Homo sapiens: one gene and its partners. The protein of the gene in region 3 purifies or fractionates together with the protein of the main gene of each other region. This does not show direct contact. Each region holds a gene or a part of one and is shown on either strand. Other genes may lie near its edges.

Evidence for each region. The genes of interacting proteins can lie anywhere in the genome.
Region 1: the proteins of DTL (region 3) and PFDN2 purify together in Homo sapiens (affinity purification with mass spectrometry; 2 studies listed by BioGRID and IntAct, with this or other methods). This does not show direct contact.
Region 2: the proteins of DTL (region 3) and CCT3 purify together in Homo sapiens (co-immunoprecipitation; 3 studies listed by BioGRID and IntAct, with this or other methods). This does not show direct contact.
Region 4: the proteins of DTL (region 3) and COPS4 purify together in Homo sapiens (affinity purification with mass spectrometry; 3 studies listed by BioGRID). This does not show direct contact.

What each region holds. Positions count from the first base shown.
Region 1 is NC_000001.11:161,101,038-161,104,537, reverse strand, and holds part of PFDN2 (prefoldin subunit 2), read left to right. Parts: intron 1-2,162; coding exon 2,163-2,251; intron 2,252-2,366; coding exon 2,367-2,490; intron 2,491-3,500. UniProt on the Homo sapiens protein: Binds specifically to cytosolic chaperonin (c-CPN) and transfers target proteins to it. Binds to nascent polypeptide chain and promotes folding in an environment in which there are many competing pathways for nonnative proteins.
Region 2 is NC_000001.11:156,324,793-156,328,292, reverse strand, and holds part of CCT3 (T-complex protein 1 subunit gamma), read left to right. Parts: intron 1-3,203; coding exon 3,204-3,321; intron 3,322-3,500. UniProt on the Homo sapiens protein: Component of the chaperonin-containing T-complex (TRiC), a molecular chaperone complex that assists the folding of actin, tubulin and other proteins upon ATP hydrolysis.
Region 3 is NC_000001.11:212,101,621-212,105,669, forward strand, and holds the end of DTL (denticleless protein homolog), read left to right. Parts: intron 1-1,221; coding exon 1,222-1,320; 3' UTR 1,321-3,393; downstream 3,394-4,049. UniProt on the Homo sapiens protein: Substrate-specific adapter of a DCX (DDB1-CUL4-X-box) E3 ubiquitin-protein ligase complex required for cell cycle control, DNA damage response and translesion DNA synthesis.
Region 4 is NC_000004.12:83,052,183-83,055,682, forward strand, and holds part of COPS4 (COP9 signalosome complex subunit 4), read left to right. Parts: intron 1-3,500. UniProt on the Homo sapiens protein: Component of the COP9 signalosome complex (CSN), a complex involved in various cellular and developmental processes.

The DNA.
Region 1 (3,500 bases), about 51 Mb from region 3:
AGGGAGATTGAGGCTGCAGTGAGCTATGATTGTGCCACTGCACTCCAGCCTGGGTGACAGTGTGTGACCTTTCTTAAAAAAAAAAAAAAAGAAAAAGAAAAAGAAAAAAAGAGATAGGGCCCTAGTAAAGATGAAGTGGTTAATCATCTTTATTAGGGGAAAGTTTCTGGCTGTGTGACTGGAGATGATATTTGCAAATACACTCGTATTTGGTAATGGTTTGAATGGATTGAGTCCACTGTTGTCAGATGACCAGGAGAGTCTAAAGGGGCAATTCTGGACTTGGAGAGAAGTCCATGATAGCATTAATGTACTTCACTGTTCACAAAGATGTTTCACACTCATTGGTTCACATGATACAACAACCTTATGCAGTAGGAATCATTATCTGCATTTTGCAGGTAAGAAAACTAAGGCTTAAAGGGGTTAATCCAGTGGTTCTCAGTTCACACTACACATTAGAATTATGTGGGAGATCTTTTTAAAAATACTGAGGCCTGAGCCTTACCCCCAGTAGTTGTGTAGTTGTTCTGAGGGTCCAGTATTCATGTTTTTAAAATGATTCAGGTGATTCTAACATATAGCCATGGTTAAGAACCACAGGGTTAAATGTCTGTGCCAGGCCATAGAGCCAATAAAGTAGCAGAGGCAGAACCTGAAACCTGGTCTTTTGTCTCTGAGCCTCATATTTTTCATTTTTTCCCCCCACACTCTGATTTTTCAGGTTTCATTTAAGACCATTACATTATCCCTCAGGAAGCCTGTATCAATTCTGTATCAGTTAGGGTTTATAGGCTACAGAAACCAACTTTGACCAACTTTCTTTTTTTTTTTTTTTTTTTTTTTTTTTTTTTGAGACGGAGTCTTGCTCTGTTGCCAGGCTGTAGTGTGGTAGCGTGATCTCAGCTCACTGCAACCTCCGCCTCCTGGGTTCAAGCAATTCCCCTGCCTCTGCTGAGTAGCTGGGACTACAGGCACATGCCACCATGCCCGGCTAATTTTTTTGTATTTTAGTAGAGATGGGGTTTCACCATGTTGGCCAGGATGATCTTGATCTCCTGACCTGGTGATCTGCCCACCTCGGCCTCCCAAAGTGCTGCGATTACAGGCGTGAGCCACCACGCCTGGCCCTTTTTTTTTTTAAAGGGCTATTTTTGAATAATAGTGGGTATTTCACAGAATTGAACAGAATGAAAAAGAAGGCTAAATAACTAGACTGAACAAAGTTCAAGAACTGGGGCAGCTTTAGGGAATCTAGGAATAGGAATGGAAGGTCATCTCTACAGAACCAATAGGAATCTTAACTCCAGCTGTCTTCTATACCCATTTGTCTGCAAAATTCCAATTCCTGTAGAGAGATTCCATAGGTCACTGCCCCTGGGTCAGGGGTCATGTGGTTAGTAGCCCCAAAAGAACCACACCAAGTTAAGGAGGGGCAGTTCCCCAATGGATGGGATACTGAGCAGACCCAAACAAAAGTTACTCATTACAAAGCCCTTCCTGACAGCCCTCACTGCAAGTCTAGGCTCCCCTGTAGGTACTCCAGTAGCTCTCCAACCCCATTCTTTTTTTTTTTTTTTTGAGACGGAGTTTCGCTCTGTCGCCAGGCTGGAGTGCAGTGGTGCGATCTTGGCTCACTGCAACCTCTGCCTCCCGGGTTCAAATGATTCTCCTGCCTCAGCCTCCCAAGTAGCTGGGACTACAGGCGCACACCACCATACCCAACTAATTTTTCTATTTTTAGTAGCGACAGAGTTTCACCATGTTGGCCAGGATGGTCTCAATTTCTTGACCTTGTGATCCGCCTGCCTTGGCCTCCCAAAGTGCTGGGATTACAGGTGTGAGCCACCGCACCTGGCCCCCATTCTTATATTAAATGCCTATTTCCCACCAAACTATGAGCCAGGAGAAGCCAGAGGCCAAATCTATTCTGTGATATCCCTCAGTGGGCCCTCAAATATCTCAAAAATAGTAAGCCCTCCGTGTTTGGTGAATGGAATTCCAGAAAAATTTTAGGTAGAAATCGCAAACTTGTGGTTCTACTCCTTTTCCAAGGTAGGTGCCCACTACTGCACCTTTGTAAAGCCTGCCACCCTATGTGCTATCTGGACCCTCTGCCATTTCCACTATCCCCTCTTTCATCTCTTCTCTCACCTTGTTAGGTGATTGCTGGCTTCAACCGCCTTCGGCAGGAACAGCGAGGCCTGGCATCCAAAGCAGCTGAGTTGGAGATGGAGTTGAATGAGCACAGGTGAGAAAGTCAGGGAGAGGCAAACAGTAGGACAGTTGTGTGGGCTACTCCGTGAGGGGGATTTGTAGTAGAGTGGGGCTGAATCCTCAGGTCCTGCCTTGTTCTCCTATCCCAGCCTAGTGATCGATACACTGAAGGAGGTAGATGAAACTCGTAAGTGCTACCGCATGGTTGGAGGAGTGCTGGTGGAGCGAACTGTCAAAGAGGTGCTGCCCGCTTTGGAGAACAACAAGGAGCAGGTGAGCAAGAATCATTGAATAGGATCGGGTACAGTGGCTGTAAACCCAGCACTTTGGGAGGCCAAGGCAGGTGGACTCTTTGAGTCCGGGAGTTCGAGACCAGCCTGGGCAACATGGTGAAACCATATCACTACAAAAAATACAAAAGATTAGCTGGGTATGGTGGTATGTGCCTGTAGTCCCAGCTACTCACCTGAGCCTAAAATGTCGAGGCTTCAGTGAGCTGTGATCACCTCACTGCACTCCAGCCTGGGTGACAGAGTGAGACCCTGTCTCAGATAAAAGGAGGGCAGCATAAAATAGCCTATGCTCATTATGCTATGCTAAGTGCAACTCTTAGACAAGAGGAATTGCTGACTGCTGTGGGCTCTGTGACTTGGCTGAATTGGGGTGGGAGGATTGGGGTTAGAGTAATGTTTCTCATAGTGTGTGTTTCACGAATACATGAATCAAAATCACCTGAAGGACTAATTTATAAATGCAGCTTCCCAGACCCACTGGATTAGAACCTTTGGGAGTGCCATGAAGTGACATTTTAAAAATAAGCTAGGCAGGTTGCAGTGACTCACACCTGTAATCCCAGCACTTTGGGAGGCCGAGGCGGGCGGATCACGAGGTCAGGAGGTCAAGACCATCCTGGCTAGCATGGTGAAACCCCATCTCTACTAAGAATACGAAAAATTGGCTGGGCGTTGTGGTGGGCGCCTGTGGTCCTAGCTACTCGGGAGGGCAAGGCAGGAGAATGGCGTGAACCTGCGAGGCGGAGCTTGCAGTGAGCTGAGATTGCACCACTGCACTCCAGCCTGGGCGACACAGCGATGCTGCAACTCAAAAAAAAAATATTAAAAATAAAAAATGAAAAAATAAAAATAAGCTCATGCCTGTATTCCTAGCGCTTTGGGAGACCGAGGCAGGAGGACTGCTTGAGGCAGAAGTTTGAGACCAGCCTGGGTAACATAGTAGGAACTTGTCTCTGTAAAAAATAAAAATAAGCAGCCCAGGTGATTCTA
Region 2 (3,500 bases), about 56 Mb from region 3:
GCAGAAGCGCCCCTCACCTCCCGGATGGGGCGGCTGGCCGGGCCGGGGGCTGACCCCCCTACCTCCCTCCCGGACGGGGGGACTGACCCCCCCCACCTCCCTCCCGGACGGGGCGGCTGGCTGGGCAGAGGGGCTCCTCACTTCCCAGTAGGGGTGGCCAGGCAGAGGCGCCCCTCACCTCCCGGACGGGGCGGCTGGCTGGGCGGGGGGCTGACCCCCCCACCTCCCTGCCAGATGGGGCGGCTGGACCCCCACCTCCCTCCCGGACGGGGTGGCTGCCGGACGGAGGGGCTCCTCACTTCTCAGACAGGGCGGTTGCCAGGCAGAGGGTCTCCTCACCTCCCAGACGGGGTCGCGGCTGGGCAGAGGCGCTCCTCACATCCCAGACGGGGCGGTGGGGCAGAGGTGCTCCCCACATCCCAGACGATGGGCGGCCGGGCAGAGACGCTCCTCACTTCCTAGATGGGATGGCGGCCGGGCAGAGAAGCTCCTCACTTTCCAGACTGGGCAGCCAGGCAGAGGGGCTCCTCACATCCCAGACGATGGGCGGCCAGGCAGAGACGCTCCTCACTTCCCAGACGGGGTGGCGGCCGGGCAGAGGCTGCAATCTCGGCTCTTTGGGAGGCCAAGGCAGGCGGCTGGGAGGTGGTTGTAGCGAGCCGAGATCACGCCACTGCACTCCAGCCTGGGCACCATTGAGCACTGAGTGAACGAGACTCCGTCTGCAATCCCGGCACCTCGGGAGGCCGGGGCTGGCGGATCACTCGCGGTTAGGAGCTGGAGACCAGCCCGGCCAACACAGCGAAACCCCGTCTCCACCAAAAAAATACGAAAACCAGTCAGGCGTGGCGGCGCGCGCCTGCAATCGCAGGCACTCGGCAGGCTGAGGCAGGAGAATCAGGCAGGGAGGTTGCAGTGAGCCGAGATGGCAGTAGTACAGTCCAGCTTCAGCTCGGCATCAGAGGGAGACCGTGGAAAGAGAGGGAGAGGGAGACCGTGGAGAGGGAGAGGGGAGAGGGGAGAGGCGAGAGGCTATGTACATTTTTAAAAGCTTATTTTACCTGCCAGTAAGCAGGTAGTACAAGCAATTTGTGCAAAAGGCTTTTGACAAAAAGAATATTTACAATACTCTCTTTATACTTTTTCTAGAAACAAGCTTTTTTGTGTGTGGGTTTGCATCTATGTATATGTTATTTTGTGTGTGTCTATTAGAAAGTAAAGACAAATTTTATTTGTTTATTTATTTTGAGACAGAGTCTCACTCTATCACCCAGGCTGGGGTGCCTGGGCACAGTCTCCACTCACTGCAACCTCTGCCTCTCAGGTTCAAGCAATTCTTGTGCCTCAGCCTCCCAACTAGCTGGGATTACAGACACCCACCAACACACCTGGCTAATTTTTGTATTTTTGGTAGAGACAGTTTCACCATGTTGTCCAGGCTAGTCTCAAAACTCCTGGTCTCAAGCGATTTGCCTGCCTCGGCTTCCCAAAGTGCTGGGATTACAAGGTGTGAGCCACCATTCCCAGCCAGAAAGTAAAGACAAATTTTAAAAGAAGGAGATGTTTTACCAATAATCCCTTATCCAGAGGGTAAATTGTGTACATTTTCTTTTTTTTTTCTTTTTCTTTTTTTTTTTTTTTTTGAGATGGAGTCTCACTCTGTGGCTTAGGCTGGAGTGCAATGGCACGATCTTGGCTCACCACAACCTCCGCCTCCCTGGTTCAAGCGATTCTCCTGCCTCAGCCTCCCGAGTAGCTAGGAATACAGGCATGTGCCATCATGCCTGGCTAATTTTTGTATTTTTAGTAGAGATGGTTTCACCATGTTGGCCAGGCTGGTCATGAACTCCTGACCTCAGGTAATCCATCTGCCTTGGCCTCCCAAAGTGCTAGGATTACAGATGTGAGCCACCACACCCAGCCTTAATTGTGCACATTTTCTAATTTTAATTTTTTATTTTTTTGAAACAGAATCTTGCTCTATTGCCCAGGCTGGAGTGCAATAGTGTGATCACGGCTCACTGCAGCCTTGACCTTCTGGGCTCAATGAGTCCTCCCAGCCCAGGTTCCCAAGTAGCTACAGGCACATGCCACCATACCTGGCTAATTTTTGAATTTTTTCGTAGAGACAGGGTTTTGCTATGTTTCTCAGGCTGGTCTAAAAATTCCAGAGCTCAGGTGATCTGCTCACCCTAGCCTCCCAAAGTGCTGGGATTACAGGTGTGAGCTACCGCATCCAGCCCTGAATATTCTTTCAGAGGTAGGGTTTTGTGTGTTTTGTTTTTAGTTCAAGCAGTTTGACTACATCCTAAGGTATAAAGGTACTAATAAACAAGTCAGTTTTTCTTTTGTGCATTTTTCTTTATTTTAGAGCCTTCAGGGAAATTTTTTTTTAGAAAGATCAAGAGAAGGCCAGGCGTGGTAGCTTACGCCTGTAATCCCAGCACTTTGGGTGGCCGAGGTGGACAGATCACCTGAGGTCACGAGTTCGAGACCAGCCTGGCCAACCAACATAGTAAAACCCGTCTCTACTAATAAAGTACAAAAGTTAGCTGGGTGTGGTGATGCATGCATGTAATCCCAGCTACTTGGGAGGCCGAGGTGGGAAAATCGCTTGAATCTGGGAGGCGGAGGTTGCAGTGAGCAGAGATTGCGCCACCGCACTCCAGCCTGGGCGACACAGCGAGACTGCTTCTCAAAAAAAAAAAAAAAAAATCAAAAGAATAAGTAAGCCCTAGAATCAGTCTTTCATCATTTTATTTTTTGAGATAGGGTCTCACTCTGTCACCCAGATTGGAGTGCAATGGTGCGGTCATGGCTCATTGCACCCTCAACCTCCTGGGCTCAAGTGATCCTCTTAACCTCAGCCTCCTGAGTAGCTGGGACTGCAGGCTCATACCACCACACTAAGCTAAATTTTAAATTTTTTTGTAAAGACAGGGTCTCACTGTGTTGCCCAGGCTGATCTTGAATTTCTGGGATTACAGGTATGAGCCACCATGCCTAGCCTGGGCAACAAGGATGTTTTCTGTATAAATTGCCGTCTTATACAATGTGTAGAATTTGGAATAGTATGAATGGCCAAATGTCATACCTTTTGGGAGAGTCTGATTTAGGAGAGTATTTTTTGGAAGAATAATTAAGTTACTTGCCTTGATATCCAGATGCTTTAAATATTACTATGGTGCTTGTATCTTTTTCAGCAGGGGAAATGCTGTCTGTAGCTGAGCACTTCCTGGAGCAGCAGATGCACCCAACAGTGGTGATCAGTGCTTACCGCAAGGCATTGGATGATATGATCAGCACCCTAAAGAAAATAAGGTATCTTGGGGGCAAGAAATAGGTAGTATCAAATATGAGAGGCCTGGCTAGACGTGGTGGCTCATGGCTGTCATCCCAGCACTTTGGGAGGCCTAGGCGGGTGGATCTTGAGGTCAGGAGATGGAAACCATCCTGGCCAACATGGTGAAACCTCGTCTGTACTAAAAATACAAAAAATT
Region 3 (4,049 bases):
CTAGATTTTTATGACTTCTCCACAATCTTTTATAATCATTTTGCCACACCACAGTAATACTTTTGACACCTATATCTATTCTTTTTAACATTCAGTGTAGTGTCACTTATCTTTTTAGGACTCATTTCATTGACTGACTTAATATTTAAATTAGATAATATCAGTCATCAGTGATTGATGGCAGAAATAGGTTTGTGAACCTTGAAAAACAAGATTCATTACAGTGGTGGAGGCAGAAGTAGCTGAGTGCATTGGGTGAGCTATGGGCACCAGTCAGAGAGAATAAAAAGCTTCTGTTGTTTGCATGTGAAGGGGAGATGGGTTAAGGAAGTTTCCACTGTACTTCACAGTAGCTCTTGTGGTGGCGGGATGATTGAAATAGAATCCAGAATCATGATCAGCATCATCTGCCATTTTAAAGGGCAGAAGCTAGATAACCAACCTTAGGCCAGTTTTAGTTTAAAAAGTGTTCATAACCCCGACCTGCTCTCATGAAGACCTATCCCATAATTTTAGAAAAATAAACTGATAGATTTTAAAGACAACTTAGTACACAAACTGCAATCAAGACCTTGCTGTAGAAAGTGGAGAAAAAAGACAGTTATAAGGAATCTTTCCTTCTCTCAAAATTATGACTGCTCTTTATCCCTAGCCAAAATTTCTATTTTTTTTTTCAAGGGAGCTGGTCTCAGCTATGTGTTAGCAGAAAAGTAGTTTCAATGAAAAACTATTTTCACTGATACATAAATCTTAAAATCTTTAAAAAGTAGAAACAGTGTGCTGGTCTTGTAATTTATTTGAAGCTAACATTTCTTAAAAATTTTTTACCTTTATATGATGATAATGTCAACCTTCAGAAGAGAGTAACATCTTCCATTTGAATACCTATCTTGTTTATAAATTGGGGGGGCTGATTTATTCATTTATTTCAAAAAGGATAGTAATTGTAACTTATTTGTTTCTTATTAGGAGACTTAGCTAGTAAATGTTTTCTATTCACATAAGAAGTCTATGCCTTCTTTCCCTACATATCATCTGTTAAGTTTTTACTATAGTCAGTACAAATCAGCCAAAAGAGACATTGCCATTGAAAGTATTTGGAGCTGAAAGCAGGCTAAACAATGAAATTTCTGGCAGCCTAATTTAAGGTATGCCTTAGTAATAACTTAGTAACAGTTGAACTTCAAGGAAATCTCTGAAATCTAAACTTTCTTCTTCTAGGTCACCATCACGCCCAGCTCCATGAGGAAAATCTGCACATACTTCCATAGAAAGTCCCAGGAGGACTTCTGTGGTCCTGAACACTCAACAGAATTATAGATTCTAATCTGAGTGAGTTACTGAGCTTTGGTCCACTAAAACAAGCTGAGCTTTGGTCCACTAAAACAAGATGAAAAATACAAGAGTGACTCTATAACTCTGGTCTTTAAGAAAGCTGCCTTTTCATTTTTAGACAAAATCTTTTCAACGCTGAAATGTACCTAATCTGGTTCTACTACCATAATGTATATGCAGCTTCCCGAGGATGAATGCTGTGTTTAAATTTCATAAAGTAAATTTGTCACTCTAGCATTTTGAATGAATAGTCTTCACTTTTTAAATTATTCATCTTCTCTATAATAATGACATCCCAGTTCATGGAGGCAAAAAACAAGTTTCTTGTTATCCTGAAACTTTCTATGCTCAGTGGAAAGTATCTGCCAGCCACAGCATGAGGCCTGTGAAGGCTGACTGAGAAATCCTCTGCTGAAGACCCCTGGTTCTGTTCTGCCTCCAACATGTATAATTTTATTTGAAATACATAATCTTTTCACTATGCTTTTGTGGGGTTTTTTTTAAGTATGTGTAAAAATGTGATGCTCAGATAAGTACATTTATATCAGTTCAGTGTTAAAATGCAGTCTCTTGAGTTAAAGTCATCTTTATTTTAAATGCAGTGATAAATGTCAACTCTTCGGAGAAACTAGGAGAACAACAACAGAAAGCTGTGTTTGTCTTTTTTCTCTCAAATATATCTCCCGTATGAGATTTCAGGTCCCCATGTTTTCACCAAGCAATCTGCTATGTCAGCCAACCCAACATCACTTTCTACAGGAGGTTATGATTTTTGCCATTTACTAGAGGAAGATGTTTTATGAAATCAATTTGGGGTTTGAATTCAGGTGCAGTCATCAGTTCTTTAGGGGCTGCAATGTTTTAAAAAAAATAAGTCATCAGATTTTAAGAAAAAAGTGATGATTTCTTATTGATATTTTTGTAACAGAATATAGCTCTTAACTGAAAATCCAGAACCAGAAACATAAATCTTGAGTTTCTTTTCATGTACATAAAAAGCAATAGCCTTTTAGTATAGATAGCCCTGAGCCAAAAAGTAATAGAATTTTCTCTAGATATTTAATACAGAGAGTGTATAGACTGACTCTAAGTTAATAATGTGCAAAATATCTTAAACATCCCTCCCCTTATTCAACAATTATGTATCAGTGATCTTGAACCATTGTTTTATATTTTTCACCTTTGTAACCTCATGGAAAGAGGCTTTACATACTTTCTATGTACTATTTACTTAGAAGGGAGCCCCCTTCCAGTCATGAAACTTCATTTGTTTTATCCATATCCCTGAGGACTGTGTAGACTTTATGTCAGTTTTTGTCATTATTTGAAAATCTATTCTGACAACTTTTTAATTCCTTTGATCTTATAAGTTAAAGCTGTAACAACTGAAATTGCATGGATCAAGTAAGCATAGTTTTATCCAGGGAGAAAAATAAAAGGAAGCCATAGAATTGCTCTGGTCAAAACCAAGCACACCATAGCCTTAACTGAATATTTAGGAAATCTGCCTAATCTGCTTATATTTGGTGTTTGTTTTTTGACTGTTGGGCTTTGGGAAGATGTTATTTATGACCAATATCTGCCAGTAACGCTGTTTATCTCACTTGCTTTGAAAGCCAATGGGGGAAAAAAATCCATGAAAAAAAAAAGATTGATAAAGTAGATGATTTTGTTTGTATCCCTACCCATCTCCTGGCAGCCCTACTGAGTGAAATTGGGATACATTTGGCTGTCAGAAATTATACCGAGTCTACTGGGTATAACATGTCTCACTTGGAAAGCTAGTACTTTTAAATGGGTGCCAAAGGTCAACTGTAATGAGATAATTATCCCTGCCTGTGTCCATGTCAGACTTTGAGCTGATCCTGAATAATAAAGCCTTTTACCTTATCTGATGTCCTTTTCTGAGCTTTTTGCATTACCTAGAAGCAGTCTACAAAAAAGAACTATAGTAGTCAAGAATCCCTTCTACTTGTTCATTAAAATGTTTATTCCCAAAGTTATAATCTATTTCAAGCTGAAAGAGCTTTTAATAAAAAACATCTTGCTTGGATCAGACTTTGAGCATTTAAGATGGCTTGGATTACTTGATAAAGCAGGGTGGAGTGATGTAGTTCTTTTTCTAAACAAGTATTTCCAGCACAAACTTTTCCATTTGAATACATTCCAAGCACTATTGCTAGGATCCCGTATTAGAGTTTGCTTTTGGCTGTTTCAACACGGGCCCTTAATTAAATTTTGTGAGGATGACTGATTAGTGTCTTCAAATGTCTCTTCATCTGGACTGCACATTTAACTGATGTTGGATCAAGACCATGTGTAGCTACTCTTGTGTTGAGGGTCAGCCCATTATCCCCATCCCCAGCCCTAACAGCTTAAAACAGCTTTAACTCCCATCTTGAAATTAGCCTATGGCCATGTTCATAACATAGGTAGTGTGTGGGTTCAACAAATGCTTTTTGAGAGCCTGTCATAGCCAACACACTACTGCTCTTAAGTCTGTTTTTCTGCTTTTCCTAGTCCCTAGTTCCTTTTACATTGCTCTTAAAGCAAAGGCCAAGTAGTCTAACAGAGAAAAATAAATTCCACAACTAAGATAGTGTGGGCAACATTTTACAAATGTGTGTCAGAAGACAGACTGAGTGAAAACATTGTACTAGAAAAACTGAGTTAATTTCCTCCCTATGGCAATTCAACACAAGTGGTTTCTGCTT
Region 4 (3,500 bases), on a different chromosome or scaffold from region 3:
AAAAGGTAGGAAGAAAAACAGGGTAGACGATGACAGCAGACGTTAGGCTAAGGGATTAGTTTTTCTTTTATGATCCAGTAGAAAGCAAAAATTTGATATAGGGGAATTGGGGAGAGGATTCTTGCAGGAGTAGACAAGAGAGGAAGGAATCTAGCAGAGGGATAGGCTTTAGATAGGAATATGGGTAGTTCATCTGTGTCAGAGATTCTCAGCCTCAGCACTACTGGCGTTTTCGGCTAGATACTTTGTTGTGGGGGCTGTCCTGTGTATTGCAGGAGGTTTTAGCAGCACCACTCCTCTGATTGCTGGATGCCAATAGTACTGCTGTTCCTAGTTGTGACAAGAAAAATGTCTGTAGACATATTAGTGATATAGTGGTGGAATTTGTGTAAGTACTCTTTCATTGCATTGCTCCAGTATTCTTTTTTTGTTGGCTTTTTGGTTTTGAGAGAGGGTCTGGCTCTGTCAACCAAGCTGTAGTGCAGTGGTGTGATCTCAGCTCACTTCAGTGTCCGTCTCCTAGCATCCCAAGTAGTTGGGACTACAGGTGCACACCACTACGCCTGGCTAATTTTTGTATTTTTAGTAGAAACGGGGTTTCACCATGTTGCCCAGGCTGGTCTCAAACTCCAGGGCTCAAGCAATCCACCTGCCTTGGCCTCCCAAAGTGCTGGGATTACAGGTGTGAGCCACCATGCCCAGCCTTGCTTCAATATTCTTAAGGAAGTTGAAATCAGAGACATCAGCTGGAACGGTGGATGGGGTTGCAGTGTGAGGTTGAGGAGAGACAATAATGTGAGAAGTAATCCCCTTAGGAGAGTGGGACAATGAATGGACTCAGCATGTAAACTTGGCAGCATTAAGGACTTGTTGAAGATCATAATGATTAAAATTAGATCAGTCATACTGGGCACAGTGGCTTCATGCTTGTAGTCCTGGCTACAAGCCTCAGTCCCAGCGGAGGTGGGAGGATCTTGTGAGCCCAGAAATTTGAGCCCAGACTGGGCAACACACTAAGACCCCATCTCTAAAAAAAATTTGATTTGGTGCTTTTTCCCATCACATTTCAGCTACATGAGTACGGGAAAGGAGTGAGCAAACAATTAGGTTTAACCACAGTTGCAATTTTTGCCTAACAAGTATGACAGCAAGAGAGGGACAAGGGAGATGAGTACCTATGCGGTTCAATGATGATAAGTTATTACAATGAGTGACCATAGGAGTTAGGCTAGGTAAAGAGGGAAGTGAGGCCTTTATGGAGAAAGGCAGTGACATGTAAGGGATAAGTGGTTTGGAGGGCACAGTGGGTTCAAGGATTGTTGGGTTTGAGATACTAGAGAAAATGAGGTAGAAAAACAATTTTAAAAAATTAAGATGGCAGGGCGTGGTAGCTCACGCCTGTAATCCCAGCACATTGGGAGGCTGAGGTGGGCAGATCACCTGAGGTCGGGAGCTTGAGATCAGCCTGGCCAACATGGTGAAACCTTGTTTCTACTAAAAATACAAAAATTAGCCGGTGTGGTCTCATGTGCCTGTAATCCCAGCTACTGGGGAGGCTGAAGCACAAGAATCATTTGAACCCGGGATGTGGAGGTTGCAGTGAGCCGAGATTGCACCACTGCACTCCAGCCTGGGTGACAGAGTAAGACTCTGTCTCAAAAAAAAAAAAAGATGGTTTATAACTCTTACTCAACCAATCTTACCTCTTGATGTATATGTTTTTTAAAATTTATAGTTCTTTATGAAACATTTCTCCTAAGTATATTGCACGAGAAGGATGAAAGGTATGAGACTATTGCTTATTGTATTGAAAACACTTCCTCTTCCAGTTGGCAAGTATAAAACGGTACCAACTGTGAAGGACTTAAAAATATCTTTGGCCAGGCGCGGTGGCTCACACCTGTAATCCCAGCACTTTGGGAGGCTGAGGCAGGCGGATCACAAGGTCAGGAGATCAAGACCATCCTGGCTAACATGGTGAAACCACGTCTCTACTAAAAATATAAAAAATTAGCCAGGTGTGGTGGCAGGCGCCTGTAGTCCCAGCTACTTGGGAGGCTGAGGCAGGAGAATGGTGTGAACCTGGGAGGCGGAGCTTGCAGTGAGCCAAGATCACACCACTGCACTCCAGCCAGGGTGACAGAGCGAGACTCCATCTCAAAAACAAAACAAAACAAAACAAAACAAAAAATAACTTCATCTGCTTTTCTACTCGTTTGCCAGGTGAACGGGGGATTCTTTTTTTGTTCTTCATTAATATTTGCAATAGTGAGGCAGACACTGCTTCAGACATCTTGCCTTTTTTGTGCATTATTTATGAAATTACTTGGCAATGATGCTCCTTGAAAAAGCGGCCAGTTTGTAAAAAAGCCTTCATATGTAGATGTTGAATTTTGCATTTCAAGGTCCCTTGATAATTTGGTAGTTTGAAAAAGCTGGGCTTTCTTGATTGCTTTGGTCTTATTCTTTACCTAGCATTTTTTCCCTAGCACAGGGCAATTGATTTATTTTCAGTGGTAGCTGAAACAAATATAAAATTAGATACTGTTTTTTGCAGTGGTCATAATTATCATTTTATAGTACTATAGTGTTATCCTCATCTGTGAGGAAACCAAAGAGATAAAAATGTCATTGGTTTTCTAAACGAGTTAAAGTGACTAAATGTAGACTTTGGATAAATGGGAACTTTTTCTTTCAAAAAATGATTCATTCTGATTATGAAAGTAATCGATATAATAGTTACACTTGGCAAAAAATTGGAAAATTCAACAGTATAGTGCTATGCATAGCAAGCAATGTAAATTTGAATTGTGAATGGAAAAAAGTACAGAATATTAATATATGCAAGGAATAAATTTGCATAAATTTCTCCTCCCATTCTCCTTTGCCCCCAAATCAATAAAGTATAGAATTATTTTCAAAGCTGGGGCCAAGTGAATTATAAACTCTGTGTTCTTGCCACATGGTGGCACCACTTTTGCAGGTAAATAGGATTAATTTTTCTGTTAGGATTAATCTTGTTTCATGTGAGTTTTGAGTTATGTGAGGTCTTTAGTTATGCACTCCTGGCATAAAATGTGACCACTGAGATGAAGAAGAAAATGAAAGCCACCTATAATCTGACTACCCACAGATAATTGCTATTAGTATTTTGATATATGTGTATAGAAATATATTTTAATAGTGTTTTACATACTGTTTTATCCAGTTTTTTCATTTAGGAAAAATACGTGGTGACTAGATTATAACTATACAGTATTCTACCTTTTTTTTTTTTTTGAGATGGAGTCTCACTCTGTTGCCCAGGCTGGAGTGCAGTGGCATGATCTCGGCTTACTGCAACCTCCACCTCCCGGGTTCAAGCTATTCTCCTGCCTCAGCCTCCCTAGTAGCTGGGACTGCAGGCATGTGCCTCTATGCCTGGCTAATTTTTTTATTTTAGTAGAGACAGGGTTTCACCATATTGGTCAGGCTGGCCTTGAACTCCTGACCTCGTGATC